Linked DNA regions of Homo sapiens: region 2 is linked to region 1. Evidence: fine-mapped expression QTL. A gene starts in region 1. The other region holds a variant in brackets. All regions are shown on one strand. Distances are between the middles of the regions.

The links. PIP is the estimated chance that this variant, and not a neighbour inherited with it, causes the effect.
Region 2: its variant is the best candidate, but not a certain one, in a credible set for the expression of ZNF251 in whole blood (TOPMed, PIP 0.86).

The regions. Positions count from the first base shown.
Region 1 is chr8:144,754,102-144,757,005 of GRCh38, reverse strand. ZNF251 (zinc finger protein 251) reads left to right here and starts at 1,475. Exons shown (of 5, transcript NM_138367.2): 1 at 1,475-1,601; 2 at 2,203-2,310; 3 at 2,685-2,814. The coding sequence starts at 2,278. The region is part of intron 2 of LOC107986986 (a long non-coding RNA gene); the gene reads right to left.
Region 2 is chr8:144,857,349-144,860,252 of GRCh38, reverse strand. No RefSeq gene overlaps it. Among named protein-coding and RNA genes, the nearest start is that of COMMD5, 5.8 kb to the right of the region's middle. The variant G/A (reference allele first, on the strand shown) is at 1,850.

The sequences.
Region 1 (2,904 bases):
ATACTTTTTTTTCAAATACCACACATAATGGCTGCATAATGTTCAACTGAGTGTACAGAAGACAATAGATTTATCTATTTCTGTGCTGCAAAAAGCATAATTATCTTCCATTTCCCCTTCTATGAATAACTAGCTATTTTCCAAATTCTCCCCATTATTTAAAAAAAACCACACACACAACAAACTCTGGAATGGGCACCCTTCTCTTTGTCATTTTTGTTATTTCCATAGGATAGATTCCTAGATTAATTGAAGTGTTTAAGGCTCTTTATGTACAGCTTAATTCATTTTCAACATTGTACTAAACACGCTTCCTCAAGCATAGCAGTGCGTAATTCTCCACAATCTCCCCAGCACTGATATTAATAATGTAAGGCATCTTCTTAATCATGTGTGACTTTGCATGGTGCTTTAGACTTCTAGACATTCTCCATCCTCGTTGATCGTCTCAAGTTCAGATATAAAATTTCTGCCTTGATTCTAACACAGTGTACAGGGCCTACACTATATTCTGGGTGACAAGATGGCTTGGCTTTCCTTTCCTTCTCCCCCTGCTCCTAAGCTGGTCTCCTCACCTTTATCAAGTGCTATTTTTTCAACCATGCTTTATTGTGTAGGGGCCAAAGGGAAAGTTCCTCTTTGCCCTCTGAAGGTTCACTGAAAGCCAACTCATAAAAGGCAGATTTTTGGAGAAAAGGCAAATAAATGGATTATTTATTTATTTATTATTTATTTTTGAGATGGAGTCTCGCTCTGTCACCCAGGCTGGAGTGCAGTGGCGCGATCTCGGCTCACTGCAACCTCCGCCTCCCGGGTTCAAGCGATTCTCCCGCCTCAGCCTCCGGAGTAGCTGGGACTACAGACGCCCGCCACCACGCCCGGCCTTTACCGCCAGTTTTCACACAGAAAAGCGGGGGGAACATCAGAGTCGTGTTTTTAGGTTTTGTGGCTGGCTTTGGGGGTCTGGCCTCTGGGACTCGCCTTGGGTAAAAGGGATTCACTCTGTGAGGAGCCTCGCGGGAGAAAAGAACTGAGACTGGAGGCCTGGGAAGGTCAGAGGGAAACTGCCTCCCAGGCCTTCATTTTGGGGCGTTGTGTTCTGAGCCCCGATAATTGTAACATCTTCATAAGCGACTTTCTGGTGGTTATGGTGAATCGGGACACACGATGTATGGTGACCGACGGGGGAGCCGGGAGCCCAGCGGGGTTAGGGTTCAGGTGAGGGTTTAGGGTCGGGGCGAGCGCGGCGCGGCCCGGATGCGCAGCGTCACCGCGCCAGACCCTCCGCTCAGCTGCCGTGGGCTCTCCCCCTCCCCGACCATAGACGGCGCAGGCCTCCAGTCATCCCAGAGCGGCCCCGGAAGAATCCGGGCGGAACCGCGGCTGGCTTCCGGTTCCCGGCGTTCTCGGAGGCGTACTGAGGCCCCGCAGGGGGCGGGGAAGCCTGCGTGTGCGCAGCTCGGCCCGGCCCGCCCTCTTCATCCTAGCCCGCCCCCTCCCCGGCTCTGGACCCGGTTCTGTGGGAGGGTCCGTTCCGGGCTCGGTGCGACTGCGCAGCTCCTCGGCGCTTCCTCGGTGGCTTCCCCGGGTCGAGCAAACAGGTGGGGCAGTGTCGGACCAGGAAGGAGCGCCAAGCGGGCAGGCAGGCGGGGAGGGCGCGGGGAGGGCGCGGGGAGGCGGCGGCCAGTCCAGGAGGAGCCTGTTCTGGGTGCCGCGGGAGCCACCGACGGGCTGCAGAGGCCGGGAGGAGGCGACCGCGGCGCGGCCCTAGAAGGCTGGACTGAGGACCACAGCTGGCTTCCGGCCTCTCCCCGGAGCCTGGGGCCTTCGGCAGCATCCCCGCGGCCTCCTTCTCACGTCCTCAGCCTTGGTGAGGCTGCACCCTCACGTGGCTCTTTGCCCCAGGTTGGCCAGGCAGGTAGAACGGCCCTGCACCCCATTTCCAGGGCCTTCAGCAGGTCTGGACCACGGGAACTGCCAGCTTTCACCCCTTAGCCGGGCGTCCCTGGATCCCCCCGGGCTCTGGCTCTGGCCGTTCTGGGATTTCAGGAGTCACTGAGCAGTAGGGCACGTCGGCCCGTGCTGCATAGTGACCTGCCTCCCGCGACCCAGGAGGCCACAGCAGCAATCAGCTTCTGCCTCCTGGCCATCCTTCCACACCCCTGGTTGAATGGGGCTGAGCCTGAGTTCTCCCCACTGAAGGTAAGTTCGGGGAGACTTCAGGCCAGGGCAGTCTCCTGTCTTCTCTTGGAAACCACAGCAGCCCATGCACACAGAATGGCAGCCACATTCCAGCTTCCAGGGCACCAGGTGAGTTAACCCTCCTTCCTGCCCACCTCTTCATCTTCATCCCCATCCCAGTCAGAAGCTACTCTCCTCTGGAGCCGTGAGCCCGGCAACTGGTAAGGCCAGCCAGGGGCTCATAGCAACCGTGAGGAAAGGGTTCTGAGAGGTAGACTCGCCCTCCTGCAGGGAGAGGGGCTCTGAGCTCAGCTGGGTCCCCGTGTAGCTGAAGTTGGCTGGTCCTCAGCGCTCTCAGCTGCCCCATCAGGGACCTGCTGATACACAGTTCATACTGACCACAGCAGGGCCCTGGGTAGTGGGGCCCCACCAGGTCAGGGCCCTTTTAGTGCAGGCTGCTGCCCCGTGGGCATGGCCTGGGCAGCGGCGATGTTTTGTTGCAGGAGATGCCGCTGACCTTCCAGGATGTGGCCGTGTACTTCTCTCAGGCGGAGGGGCGGCAGCTGGGCCCCCAGCAGCGGGCGCTCTACCGGGATGTGATGCTGGAGAACTATGGGAACGTGGCCTCTCTGGGTGAGGCTCTCTGCACTTGGCCTGGTTCGCAGTGGGGGCCTCTGAGGAGCTTGGGAGGCTGCTTTGGCTCTTTGGATCCCAAAGAAGAGG
Region 2 (2,904 bases), 100 kb before region 1:
GAGCACGCTAAGCCAGCTCTACATCTCCTTCTTCTGGTAACAGGATTAAGCCTCTCTGTCGCACTTGGCACCACAATGGCGGGTCGGGTGTATCAGCCTCAGCTGCCTTATATAGATATATAAATCTCTGCAGTCCTCTTGACATGCCTACTTCCATCACAAGCCTCCAAAGGCAGGTAGGTTCCCCTGTGGGAGTTGTTCTCCAGAACCGAAGGGCCGTAGACCTGTCAGCCACTGAGAAGGGGCGCACATGTGTGTATCTCTAAGAAGGAGGCTGTTTAAATGTTCACGAATACGGCACTGTTTGAGACACAGCCCGCAGGCTCCGAGACGGGTCTGCAGAAATCCAACATCAAGCCACTAACTCTTAGAGGCAGGGGTCATCCCTCCTAAAGTGGATGCCTTGGGTAACCTCTTCTTAGGGCCCCTAATTTTCTTCTTCCTAACAGTTGGCCTGTGTGTACTCACCTTCATATCCCACTTCACCTCCCAAAGGCTGAACTCCCTTGTCCAGGCAGCCACCCAGAAAGACACTGATACCATCCCACTCCGCCAAGTCCAGTATCAGCGCCGCCAGGAAAGCAACTCAGAAGTCAGACACCCACTGCTTCAAAACCCAAACCCTGATTACAGCACCACTATTCAGCAGGAAGCAGCCAGATAATCAACAACCACGCTCTTCCCTTTATATTAAAGTAGAAGGTGGCCAGGCGCGGTGGCTCACGCCTGTAATCCCAGCAGTTTGGGAGGCTGAGGCAGGCAGATCACTTGAGGTCAGGAGTTTGAGACCAGCCTGGCCAACATGGTGAAACCCCATCTCTACTGAAAATACAAAAATTAGCCGGGTGTGGTGGCGGCCACCTGTAGTCCCAGCTACTCAGGAGGCTGAGGCAAGAGAATCGCTTGAACCCGGGAGGCAGAGGCTGCAATGAGCCAAGATTGCACCACTGCATTCCAGCCTGGGCGACAGAGTGAGACTCTGTCTCGAAAAAATAAAAAAAGTATAAAGCAAGAATGTTAGTCCAACCTGCACAATTTTGTAAGTCCCCCACCATTTCGCAGACCTTGGTCAAAATGAAACATTCCACGGGGGTTTGGGTGGTGAGAAACAGCCTGCCTCTTATATTCTGCTGGGAGAAAGTGCAAAGAACACCACATTCTGCCGGAACAAGGGCCAGAACCACCTCATCCTAAGAACACATTATCAACATTTTCCCAGGAAGCAGGCCATGACCCCCTGCCCCGACCCCTCCCACTCAGGCCTATAAATTGCCCCAGCCTGTAAGCGGCAATGGGCTCTGGGACTAAGCTGGTCGCCCATCTCCACAGGTTTTTGCAATATACCTGTGTTGCTGTTAAGCCACCCTCTGTCTCTGTGTGTGTGTCATTCTTTAACCCTCATCTTCCCTTCAAAACCCAACATCACCCAGGCTGGAGTGCAGTGGTGCAATCTCAGGTCACTGCAACCTCCACCTCCTAGGCTCAAGCAATCCTCCCACCTCAGCCTCCCAAGTAGCTGGGACTAGAGGCACGTGCCACCATGCCCGGCTAATTTTTTTGTATTTTTTGTAGACACAGGGTTTTGCCATGTTGCCCAGGCTGGTGTCAAACTCCTGGACTCAAGCCATCCTCCTGCCTCAGCCTCCCAAAGTGCTGGGATTTCAGGTGTGAGCCACCACACCCAGCCAGTTCTAATTCTTACCAGTTCAGAGAACCCTGGTTCCCATGGGTCTTTCTTCCTGAAAAGAAACTCAGAAGGAAGTGGTTAGTTGGATTAGCTACAGTCTTCATCACTGGAACTGGTCTCAGGGCTGAAATGTTCTCTTCTTTTCTGTTCATTACTCATCCT[G/A]AAATTACCTCAACTGTCAACACAGTGGACCTCGGTGGGTCCCTGGGTTTGAGAAGCTCAAATGTCCTTGTAGCAACTGTAGCTTATTCAGTGGGATCCTTGCTGTGTGCTCCTGGGGAACTGGACCTCCAACCCTACAAAGTCTAGAACCATGTAGAGAGGAAACACAAAATCTCCCAGTAGGTTATGGGAGAGTCTGGGTGAATTGGGCCACTCCTGCTTCAAATCTTAGTTTCCCAGACTCATGTGTTCTTTCTGTTGGGAACACAGCACCATAAAAAGTATCCAAATTAATGCATGGCATCCCAAAGGATGGTGCCATCCTTTCAGAGCAGAGCATCCAAGCTGCTGCTTCAGCTGAGCCTCTAGAAGGCCAGTGCAGAGTTGCATGAGGCTGGCTGCTACAATACAGGTGGGTCCCATTAGGATGCCGCTGTGTGAGGATTCATGCCTCTGAATGAAGCAACCTAAGCCCCAGACAATGGTGTGGGCTGAGGCTCTGTAGGAAAGGCCAGCTGGTACCTGAAATAGGCATCCATCTGTGTGAGAAAAAACTGCCAGCCTTTCCAGGATAGAAAGGGCATGGCATCAACTCTGTTATGGACAATTTGGACATCCAGAGGTGGCAGCTGCCAGACAGGCCCTGGTAAGGGAGTTCATGCTCCTCCTGCCTCGGCCTCCCAATGTGCTGGGATTACAGACACGAGTCACTGCGCCTGGCAGCGTGAGACCCAGGGTGAAGGAGGTCTTCCATATGGAGTCTTTATTTTTGTCACCAGGGTCACCCCTTTCATGTTCCAGAGTGGCTGACAGTGAGGACTGGTGTCCACTGGTGAGTTATTTTGTCTGCTTGGTTGTTCCGTGCCTCATGTGTGCTGGATGCCTTGGTGGGCACTGATATGTGCGAACACCTCCCCACTCTGTGCCCCTCCTTTGTGTTCACCACTGCCTCAGCCCAGACCTGGTCTGCAGGCTCCTTTTCCTTCTGGCCCCCCCAGAAGGTGGGGACACAAGGCCACTGCCCAGAAGTCTGGGCATTCTCACCTCAGGCCACT